3 linked regions of the Homo sapiens genome follow. The protein of the gene in region 1 purifies or fractionates together with the protein of each later gene. This does not show direct contact. Each region holds a gene or a part of one and is shown in the gene's direction. Other genes may lie near its edges. The genes, in order: STK24, SLMAP and CTTNBP2.

What was found.
Region 2: the proteins of STK24 (region 1) and SLMAP purify together in Homo sapiens (affinity purification with mass spectrometry; 6 studies listed by BioGRID and IntAct, with this or other methods). This does not show direct contact.
Region 3: the proteins of STK24 (region 1) and CTTNBP2 purify together in Homo sapiens (affinity purification with mass spectrometry; 3 studies listed by BioGRID and IntAct, with this or other methods). This does not show direct contact.

Annotation. Positions count from the first base shown.
Region 1 is NC_000013.11:98,458,465-98,462,117, reverse strand, and holds part of STK24 (serine/threonine-protein kinase 24 isoform b precursor), read left to right. Parts: intron 1-220; coding exon 221-344; intron 345-1,677; coding exon 1,678-1,746; intron 1,747-3,653. UniProt on the Homo sapiens protein: Serine/threonine-protein kinase that acts on both serine and threonine residues and promotes apoptosis in response to stress stimuli and caspase activation.
Region 2 is NC_000003.12:57,759,161-57,762,813, forward strand, and holds part of SLMAP (sarcolemmal membrane-associated protein), read left to right. Parts: intron 1-3,653. UniProt on the Homo sapiens protein: Associates with the striatin-interacting phosphatase and kinase (STRIPAK) core complex, forming the extended (SIKE1:SLMAP)STRIPAK complex.
Region 3 is NC_000007.14:117,863,421-117,867,073, reverse strand, and holds part of CTTNBP2 (cortactin-binding protein 2), read left to right. Parts: intron 1-2,501; exon of another isoform or gene 2,502-3,653. UniProt on the Homo sapiens protein: Regulates the dendritic spine distribution of CTTN/cortactin in hippocampal neurons, and thus controls dendritic spinogenesis and dendritic spine maintenance.

The DNA of each region.
Region 1 (3,653 bases):
GAGTTGTGGAACCACCTCCCGATGGTCTCTTCTCTGTGAGGGAGGAGGCGGGGGGGTCTTTGGGAAATCCCAGAGGGACTGGACAAGGGTGTGATGGGTGGGGACTTGGGGCTGGTGGGTGTGGGTTTAGAGGTCCCCAGGCGGCCTCCCCCTGAACGTCCCAGCGCCCCCAGAGCAGGTGTGCGAGCACTGATGGGATTTCCTGCATTTCTGTGTTAAGGGAAACAGATGGCCAAGCCTCGGGGGGCAGTGATTCTGGGGACTGGATCTTCACAATCCGAGAAAAAGATCCCAAGAATCTCGAGAATGGAGCTCTTCAGCCATCGGACTTGGACAGAAATAAGGTACGTCTGCTCACTCCAGAATGGCCACGCTGACCTCAGTCTGCAGTGTTTTGGAGGCACTTGTGTGTGAAGCTTGCTGTGGGTGCGGCTGGGGTCCTTTGTGGCAGCTGTCCTGGAATTTTGTTGCTAGGGGATGGGCAGATGAAGAGCTTTAGTTCTGTCTGATGATCCAGGTGTTCACACCAGGGAGTCTGGCCTCTGGTCTGTTTTGTGCCACTCTATTCTGCTCTCTGCAGCCCTGCTGTTGAGTTAGGATGTCCCGATGTGGCAATGTCATGGGGTTTGGGGGTGACCCGTGAAATGACTTCATAGCTCTGAGGGACTGTTGTGCATGTTGCGGTTACTTACATACATATCATAATTTTGTGACTGAGTTTTAAGGACCTTATAAGTAAATGCATTGCTTTTGATATTTATGTAAAACAATTTTGATTAATTGGTTTTATGCCTGTTAAATTTATGAAAGGCCATATATTTAGGGTCTTGTAAAGCATAGTGGTGTAGTTTCTTTCAGGCAGGGTGGGCCAGTGGCTGTCCCCTGTTGATCCTACAAGTCCCGCTTTGATAAGTGAACAGGTGTTAAATGTCCAAATAGAGGTTGCAAAAGTAGAAACTCGGTCTCTGTCCTAGACAGCCATTGGAATGGCCAATCTTGACCTGATTTCTATTTCCAGGGTTTCATTAGTAAAGTACTTTTCTCTCTCTCTCTCTCTCTCTCTTTTTTTTTTTTGAGACGGGGTCTCTGTTGCCCAGGCTGGAGTGCAGTGGTGCCATCAGAGCTCACTGTAGCCTCAAACTCCTGGGCTCAAGTGATCCTCCCACCTCAGCCTCCTGAGTAACTGGGATTGCAGGCATGTGACATCACGCCCAGTTTATTTAAAACTTTTTTTTTTTTTAATAGAAACATGGTCTCACTATGTTGCCCAAGCTGGTCTCGAACTCTTGGGCTCAAGTGATCCTCCTGCTTCGGCTTCCCAAAGTGTTGGAATGACAGGCATGAGCCACCACGCCCAACCAGTAAAGCACTTCTGCGTAGATAGCAAGACGAGGCAGTTCACCGCCTGTGCCCACACAGAGTCCCCTTCCACATGGAACCCAGATGCTGGTTTCCCCGGTGCGTGGGTTTTGCATGTCACTGCAGATGAAACTTTGAAGTCTAGTGAGAGGCAGCCGATAGTCTCCTTCAGATGTTATGGTGCGCAGAGGGTGTTTCCTCAGCGTGAAGTGTAGAGGCAACTCCTGCGCTTCCATAGTCCAGGTGGGAGGTTTATTAAATTATTGCCAATGTGAACGTCAACTGTTTCTGATGACCTTTTTTTCCCTCTCCCCCAAGATGAAAGACATCCCGAAGAGGCCTTTCTCTCAGTGTTTATCTACAATTATTTCTCCTCTGTTTGCAGAGGTAGGTACCTGGCTGGCCTTTTCGGAGTGGGAGGGGAGGGGGAAGGAGAAGCTGGACACACTTCAGTGGTGATGTTGCCAGTTAAGAGTTGGGGACATTAAGACAAGCTGGCAAAGGCTCGGAAAGCCTGCATGGTGCCTTCCCAAAGGCTGTCAGCACCACCTTGCGCCTCCCCTGTCCTGGGTGATGCCCACTCCGCCGCAGCCTGGAATGTGTAGACTGGATGACAGTGACCCAGCCCGAGACCCTGTGTCACCCGTTGCCCTGCTTTTTAGCAAATCTCATTGTGTACAGCCTGCTCTCTTTGCCTCAGACCAATTTCTGGCCATGTGAAAAGTAGATTCTTTCTTCTAAGGAGACGTTGGATGCCCTGGAGTCCTCCGGTTTCCCCTGAGCCACATGTTTCACTGAAGTCCCTCCTCTGCTCAGCAGTGCTGTGCTCCCAGCTGGGCCTCCCCACGCCCACTCCCTGCTCAGCCTCTCCCTCCCAGAGGAAAGTGCTCCCGTGGCCGTGTTTTGAGAGATTTTCAAAAGTAGGCTTTATAAGAATGAAGATTGTTCTGCATCTGGTTAGTAGCGGATTTGAAAATAAGTTGGAAGTCCCCTCTTTTCTTGTTGTGCCCCTTCCTGGCTGAGGCTGCCTTTGAGGTACTCACTGTGGGCCACACACGCATCTGTTTGCGTGGGGATCTTCCCTCTTTGGGCAGTTTTCCACTGCGGCTGTGTTTAGGGGTCCTGGTCCTTGAAGGGGAGGTGCTCAGGAGAGGAAGTGTCATAGGAGCTCATTCTCCTCCCCTGTGCCTGCGTCACGCAGCGGGGGACCCCCGGCCATGGGCCGTGCCTGGCCAGCCACGGTCCTGCCAGTGCCTCTTCCCAGCCCTCCAATAAGCCTTCACCTGTTGCCCTGCCCAGCAGGTGCCCTGGAGGGTTTGTCTGAGGGCCTCTGACCTGGCAAGTTCAGGGCCCGGTGGGAGCAGGGCTGTGGCCAGAGCCCGAGGCCTCACCTGCAGCTTCAAGTGGGAAGTAGCCGAGCCCGCTGGTGTCGGGGAAGCCACAGGGCACGCGGAGGCCCTGCTGGATGATGTCTGGCTTCAGCCCTGGCTCATGGTTCTGGGCACCTGTGTTCTTCCTAACTAGGATGTCCGGGTTGAGCGCCATCCTGCGCTTCATTTTGTCCCATGGGAGTTGGCCCCGTGGGATTTCCAGGCTGTGCTCCTGCGGCCCTGCCATTGGCCGCTGGAATAGGGTCAGTCAGGCAGTTAGGGAAAGTGCATGGACTTTTTCATTCTCCTGAGGCTGTTTATTTTTTTACTGGGCCCATGAAGCAACTTTGACATAATTATTCAGGACATATCCTAAACGCCGTCATATCCTGGATTTTCCAGGTAACCAATTGCTAAACTCACAGGCATCTTTCCCAATGTATTTTTAAGAATGATATTTGCTACCCTAGAGTTCAGAGTGTTTATTGTGTATTATTTCATACAATACTTGTAGAAGCCCAGTAGAAGGATTATATCCCCATGCTTACAGATGAGGACATTGAGGAGACGGGTGTTGGCGTCCCTGCTTTCCTTCAGGGAGCACAGGTCAGGTTGCTCCCTGAAGTCAGTGATGGGTCCAGCACGTTCCACACGGCAAGGGGACAGGCCCTCTCCCAGGGCGGCCCTTCTGCCGCCTTTGCTCCTTCTTTGAGACTTAGGGGCGGGGCATGGGCAGGAGGGAGAGTGCTGGATTGTAGCTGACCCTCTCGGGACTTGTAAATACTGTCAAGTGATTGGGAGTCCTAGACAAACACGAGTGGCCGCCTCGGGGCCGGCGGCGTGGCCCTGTGACAGCAAGAACTTCAGGAACAAATGCTCTCTACACCCACTGGCCCTCCAAGGTCAGACCCTTCTAGTTCCTGC
Region 2 (3,653 bases), on another chromosome or scaffold:
GTATGTTAACTTTTCTGTTTAACACCAGATCCTCATTTACCTGTGGAACAGACCCTTCACTCGCTCCTCGCAAGCTGAAGTTAGGGTGCCTAAAATACTTCATAGATTACTCGTAATCCTTTTTTTTTTTTTTTGAGACAGATTTTTGCTCCTGTCACCCAGGCTGGAGTGCAGTGGCGCTATCTCAGATCACTGCAACCTCTGCCTCCCGGGTTCAAGTGATTCTCCTGCCTCAGCCTCCAAAGTAGCTGGTATTACAGGCACACGCCACCATGCCTGGTTAATTTTGTATTTTTAGTAGAGACAGGGTTTCACCATGTTGGCCAGGCGGTCTTGAACTCCTGACCTCAGTTGATCCACCTGCCTCAACCTCCCAAAGTGCTGGGATTACAGGCGTGAGCCACTGCACCTGGCCCTCATAATTCTTTAAAATGAATATTCATAGAACTCATTTTTCCAGCAGTTGAATTCAAACATCAGTTTACTACTAAGTAGTGCCTTAACTCAACCAGCTTTTACATTTTCACCATTTTATGTTCTTGGGCAACAGGTCTAAACTAATCAGACAACAGGTTGGCTCACAGTACATACTCTGCGAATGCACTTTCTTTGATGAAACACTCGAAGGGGACTCCCATTTTTTGTTTTACTTATTTGAAAAATACTGATTTCATGCCCAGTGCTTTCCATGGCTGTACTAAAACTCTCACAATAGGTTATTTTGAGATAACTAAGAATAGGTCAGTAGTGACTGTTTCATGAATTGAGATGACATGTTAATATTTGTTTTTTTTCTTTGAGATGGAGTCTCGCTCTGTGGCCAGGCTAGAGTGCAGTGGCGCAACCTCAGCTCACTGCAACGTCTGCCTCCTGGGTTCAAGCGATTCTTGTGTCTTAGCCTCCTGAGTAGCTGGGATCACAGGCGCATGCCACCATGCCCAGCTAATTTTTATATTCTTCGTAGATACTGGGTTTCACCATGTTGGCCAGGGTGGTCTTGAACGCCTGACCTCAAGTGATCCACCCTCCTCGGCCTCCCAAAGTGCTGGAATTACAGGCATAAGCCACCACACCCGGCCATGAAATTAGTTCTTCAGAAAAACTTATCTTTGAATGGTAGATATGGCTTATTTCTACCATTTTCACTTTTTTCCTCCTGCTTTATTAGCTAAAATAACACGCAGGCTATGAGACCACTACTTTAGATATAGATGTAATTATTGATTATTATACCACTTAATCTAGTTATAGCGGATGCTCTGTCAGATCTTACCATGTCATTGAATTGTTTTAGGAATTAACTATTTAAAGTTTTGGTTTGGACAGATAGTAGGTTTTAATTGAGCATCTATTATGTGCCAGACACTGTGAGGGATACAGTTCCAAAGAAAACCCACAGTGCGACCAAATAGTTCTCGTATGAAATTTGCAGTGTCTGTAGTCCCACCTACTCGGGATGCTGAGGCACGAGGGTTGCTTGAGCCCAGGAGTTTGAGGTTGCAGTGCTGTGATTATGCCACTGCACTCCAGCCTGGGTATCAAAGCAAGACCCTGTCTCTTAAAAAAAAAAAAAGAATCCCTTCAGAGAAGGAGTTTCGTTCTTGTTGCCCAGGCTGGAGTGCAATGGCGCGATCTTGGCTCACCACATCCTCTCCCTCCTGGGTTCAAGTGATTCTCCTGCCTCAGCTTCCCGAGTAGCTGGGACTACAGGCATGCGCCACCACGCGTGGCTAATTTTGAGTTTTTAGTAGAGACAGGGTTTCTCCATGTTGGTCAGGCTGGTCTTGAACTCCCAACCTCAGGTGATCCACCCACCTCAGCCTCCCAAAGTGCTGGGATTACAGGCATGAGCCACCGCGCCCGGCCAGGTTTTTTTTTTTTTTTAAACATCTGGGGATGATAATGGTACCTATTATTGTTTTGAGAATTGAGGTAATTATATAAATCACTTAGCACCCTGTCCCTGGCTCTTACTAAGCACCCAATACTCAGCAGAGAGGGTGTTTAGTGGGGAAGAGGGAACTATTTAGACAACACTGTGCAATTTGCTATAGTGCTATGGAGTCTTAGGAAGGTGATGAGAAATTATTTTCTTTAATGTGATGGCATATATAGAATAAATTTTGTTTTTGTTTTTGTTTTTTGTTTTTTTGAGACGGAGTCTGGCTCTGTCACCCAGGCTGGAGTGCAGTGGTGCGATCTCAGCTCACTGCAACCTATACCTTCTGGATTCAAGAGATTCTCCTACCTCAGCTTCTCAAGTAGCTGAGATTACAGGCATTCATCACCATGCCTGGCTAATTTTTGTATTTTTAGTGGAGACAGGGTTTCACCATGTTGGCCAGGCTGGTCTCAAACTCCTGACCTCAGGTGATCCACTTGCCTCGGCCTCCCAAAGTGCTAGGATTACAGGCATGAGCCACTGTGCTTGGCCAGAAGAAATTTTTAAAATTGAAACTGATGTAGTTGATAACTTTGTCTAAATTGGCAGTTTACCTGGGCGGTCGACAATTGGGGTAATATGTGCTTTGGGTGACTTTCACTTTGTGGTGACTGTTGCATTCTGCATTGTCCATTATGGGAGGCTCATTAAAAGTTGGAAGAAGGCCGGGCGCGGTGGCTCACGCCTGTAATCCCAGCACTTTGGGAGGCCGAGGCGGGTGGATCATGAGGTCAGGAGATCGAGACCATCCTGGCTAACAAGGTGAAACCCCGTCTCTACTAAAAATACAAAAAATTAGCCGGGCGCGGTGGCGGGCGCCTGTAGTCCCAGCTACTCGGGAGGCTGAGGCAGGAGAATGGCGTGAACCCGGGAAGCGGAGCTTGCAGTGAGCCGAGATTGCGCCACTGCAGTCCGCAGTCCGGCCTGGGCGACAGAGCGAGACTCCGTCTCAAAAAAAAAAAAAAAAAAAAAGTTGGAAGAAATAGGCCAGGCTTGGTGGCTCATGCCTGTAATCCAGCACTTGGGGAGGCTGAGGCAGACGGATCACGAGGTTAGGAGATCGAGATCATCCTGGCTAACACGGTGAAACCCTGTCTCTACGAAAAATACAAAAAATTAGCTGGGCATGGTGGCATGTGCCTGCAATCCCAGCTACTCGGGAAGGCTGAGGCAGGAGAATTGCTTGAACCCGGGAGGCGGAGGTTGCAGTGAGCTGAGATCGCGCCACTGCACTCCAGCCTGGGTGACAATGTGAGACTCTGTCTCAAAAAAAAAAAAAAAGTTGGAAGAAATAATAAACACTTGAAACTTTATGATTATTCAAATGATACATGTTCATTTTAGAATATCTGCAAAATGTAGGCAGGTGGAAATCTAAGTGACACTTTTTAATGCTAAGCTCATGGAATATCTTATTGTATAATACTTAAATCTGCATGTTGAAGGGTGACAGGTTTGGCACAAAGCAGAGTTTCATAATCTTTACCAAATCATCTTCTCAGTAATGTAGCAGTTGGATATTGCCTTGTTGGATGCTGGCCCTGTGTATTATCCTTCATCCTTTTCGGAAGTCAAGCTCTTCAAATTAGATGGCAGATAGTAGAATGGTTTTTTTTTTTTTTTTTTTTTTTGAGCCGGAGTCTTGCCCTGTCTCCCAGGCTGGAGTGCAGTGGCGCAATCTCGGCTCACTGCAACCTCTCCCTCCTGGGTT
Region 3 (3,653 bases), on another chromosome or scaffold:
TAGTGCATGTTCTTATGTACCTAGAGAGGTGAATTTAATATTTTGCATGTCAGTGATACAGCCTTTGCATTGTGATGGTGAACTTTCAAGTTGATTTCATTGCTTTTCCTTTTTGATAGCCCTTATTCATCCCCAAAGCATAAATCTTGCTTACATAGAAAGTTCTAAATGCATTATTATTGGCATGCACTATTAAACTGGGAGGAAAATACATTTCTCTAACTTCTGAGCAAAGAGGCAAAATCAGTTTTCCTCAAGTACCTCACAAACGCTTTTAGGCTCAGGAAATGACCTAAATGAATTTCCTCAGTCCAGTAATCCAGTTACCCTGATGGTACATGAAATCAGGACATTTAGGGGATGGGGGAGATTTAAGAGATCACTTACTCCAGCATCCTTATTTTTACTGATGGAAAACCTGAGATTCAAACAGATGAAATGATTTGCCCTACTTTGCTGATTCTTCCCTAGCCACATTGCTCATCACCCCACCTTCCAGTCTGCCTGCTTTCTCCTGTGTAAAGCTTACTGATGGAAAATAGGCACAACCTGCTGGATTTTAAATTGGAAGAGAGGCTCTTGGTGTTGGTGGGAAGAGCCAGAGAAAGTGCCTGAGTTTGTGTTTGGTCACCAACATATCCCCCAGCAGCCCTGATAGGACGGATGTGTTTGAGGAAAGATCTGAGGGGTGTCTCTGCCATTGTGGCTCATAATGTCTCCTGAAGGCATTCTGATAATCAATCACTGTTGGTTGGTTCCACTAATTCTAAAAGGGTATGGGTAAGACTTTTCTGTTAATATTTAGCTGTATCTATTGAATTCCCCACATAAACCTAGTGTTTTAGATTTGGGGAGGGGGAAACTTGGTATTGGCCTGTGTTCAATTCTGGAAATTTAAGATGAGTTTACTCAGCCAGGGTCTGTTTTGTCTATTCTGTCTCTTTCTCTCTTTCTCAGCCTGTATGAGAAAAAATCCTGAAGAATGCCCTCCCCACGCTTGCGCCAAGTAATTCAGAGCTGTTCAAAACTACAGTGTTGAACAGTTGAGTTTGGGATTATTTCTCCTTTTCCATTTATACATAATATACTATATATATGTATATATTATATATATAATTATATAAGTATACTTTTTAATTTTAAATAAATTATATATAATAAATTGTAATATACAATAGATTAACATACAATAAATTAATATATATGACTTGTATCCTAAACAAGACATACTTTGATGACCAGATTCTGGATTAGTTGAAGCTGCCATGCCAGATTTTTAAAACTAGGTGTTAAGCACTTTTTCTGGAATGCTTTTCCTGGCAAATGTAACAGGCAGAAGAGTGGCCTGTGGAATTGAAATCTGTTTTTCTATTTTTTCTTTTCTTTTTTTTTTTTTTTTTTTGGAGATGGAGTCTTGTTCTGTCACCAGGCTGGAGTGGCACGATCTCTGCTCACTGCAACCTCTGCCTCCTGGGTTCAAGCAATTCTCCCACCTACAGCCTCCATAGTAGCTGGGACTACAGGTGCATGCCACCATGCCTGGCTAATTTTTTTTCTTTTTTTTTTTTGTATTTTAGTAGAGACGGGGTTTCACCATGTTGCCCAGGCTGGTCTTGAACTCCTGAGCTCAGGCAATCTGCCGGCCTTGGCCTCCCAAAGTGCTAGGATTACAGGCGTGAGCCACCGTGCCTGGCACAGGTCTGGTTTTACTTTGTTTTTAGTTTCTTTTCATCACTAAAAAATAGCTGGATTTTTCTTTTTTAATTGGGAAAAGCAAGTTCAATAGTAAACTTTAGTCTGCGAACATGTCTGCTGTGATTTTTTTCTGGGGGGCGTTGGGGATTTGGGGGTCATGTTTTCATGGTGCCCTGATAGAGACCTTAATTTTTTTGTGTGAGTGGCAGCATTTGAATCTGTCCTGTCTTCTATCCAATTTGAAAATTAGATTATCAAGGCAATCTTTTATAAACATTATATGACTTAAAATAGTTCGTTTGGCTCTTAAACCAAGAAACTTTAATATTTTTTCTATATCTAAGTACTTTTGTACCATATGCATCTAAGATTAATGCCACTTCATATATATATGAATATATATGAATATATATTGAATGAATATATATGAATATATATTGAATGAATATATATGAATATATATTGAATGAATATATATGAATATATATTGAATGAATATATATGAATATATATTGAATGAATATATATGAATATAGAATGAATATATATGAATATATATTGAATGAATATATATGAATATAGAATGAATATATATGAATATATATTGAATGAATATATATGAATATATATTGAATGAATATATATGAATATATGTATATATGAATATATATGAATATATGAATATATATGAATATATATAAATATATGAATATATATTCATACATCTAGATATATGAATATATATATTCTAACAAAAATGTAGTTTTTGTTAGAATTTTTGCTTCTGGGGTTATTTTTCTAAAAATGCTAAAGTGCTTTATATTTATAAAATACTTGGAGTCTTAAGATCTCCAGCATCTTTTCATGCACAGTACTTTTTTTAACCCTGTTTTGCCAGAATAGAATTGGAAATAAAAGTTGTTGACAATTTGAAAATATTATTATTATATTTGTACTATGGAAGGCCAGGAATTAGTAGAGAAATTTTACTATGACTAGTAGTGGAGAAGTGGGGGTGGAGTCATAGAGGGAAGAGAGACAAGCAGACAGATGCACTGTATGTTTCAAACAGTACATCACTTCATATGTTGTGATGGGAGACAGATTTATTTTTAACATTCTGTGTGACATAATCTATGGTTTAGCAAGAATGCTTGTACCAATATTTTTTATTTTAATGAATTTCCCTCTTTATTGATGGTAATACATAGAAAAACAGAAGTTTTAGCTGTAGGTCACATGTGTTGCTGCTACTGATGGAAGCAGGGCAGGCTCTCCTGACTCTAATATGAATCAGGATCTTGGCAATGTCTTTCATAATTTATTAGTTTTTAAAATGGAGCACTTTGCTTATAAAGCTTTGGAGAAACAAGACAATAAAATATACAATTAATTAAAATCTTTAGAGCAACCAGCAGCATCATTAATAAAGCATTACACTCTAAAGCACATAAGAATTGCAGCTTACTCTCCCATCTCAGTGGGAAAAACCAGGATAAAAGAGCCTGTCTTTCATCATAGTGAATAAACTGAGTTTATTGGACTTGGGCTGGTAGATTTTCAAAGAAATAGGCTCCTGGCCAATACCCCATTCCTCTCTACATGAAACATCTGGGTTAATAATAACAATCGCCTGCCTTCATTTGGCACTTACTTCATTGATATGTTCTTGTTTAATCCTCACAAGAATGCAGGGTAGACGTTAGGAATTCCATTATACAGATGAGAAAACAGAGGATGGCATGAGTTACAGAAGTGCTCCTCACCATGTAGTCCGTGGACCAGCAACATCAGCAGGAGCTTGTTAGAAGGGCAGATTCACAGCCCCACCTCGGACTCACTGAATCACAATTTCCAGGGGTGGAGCCCCGTGGCTTGTTTTTTCACAAGGTCTTCAGGTGATTCTTATGCATGCCAATGTTTGAGAACAATTAGTTTATAAGACCTTATGGACACTA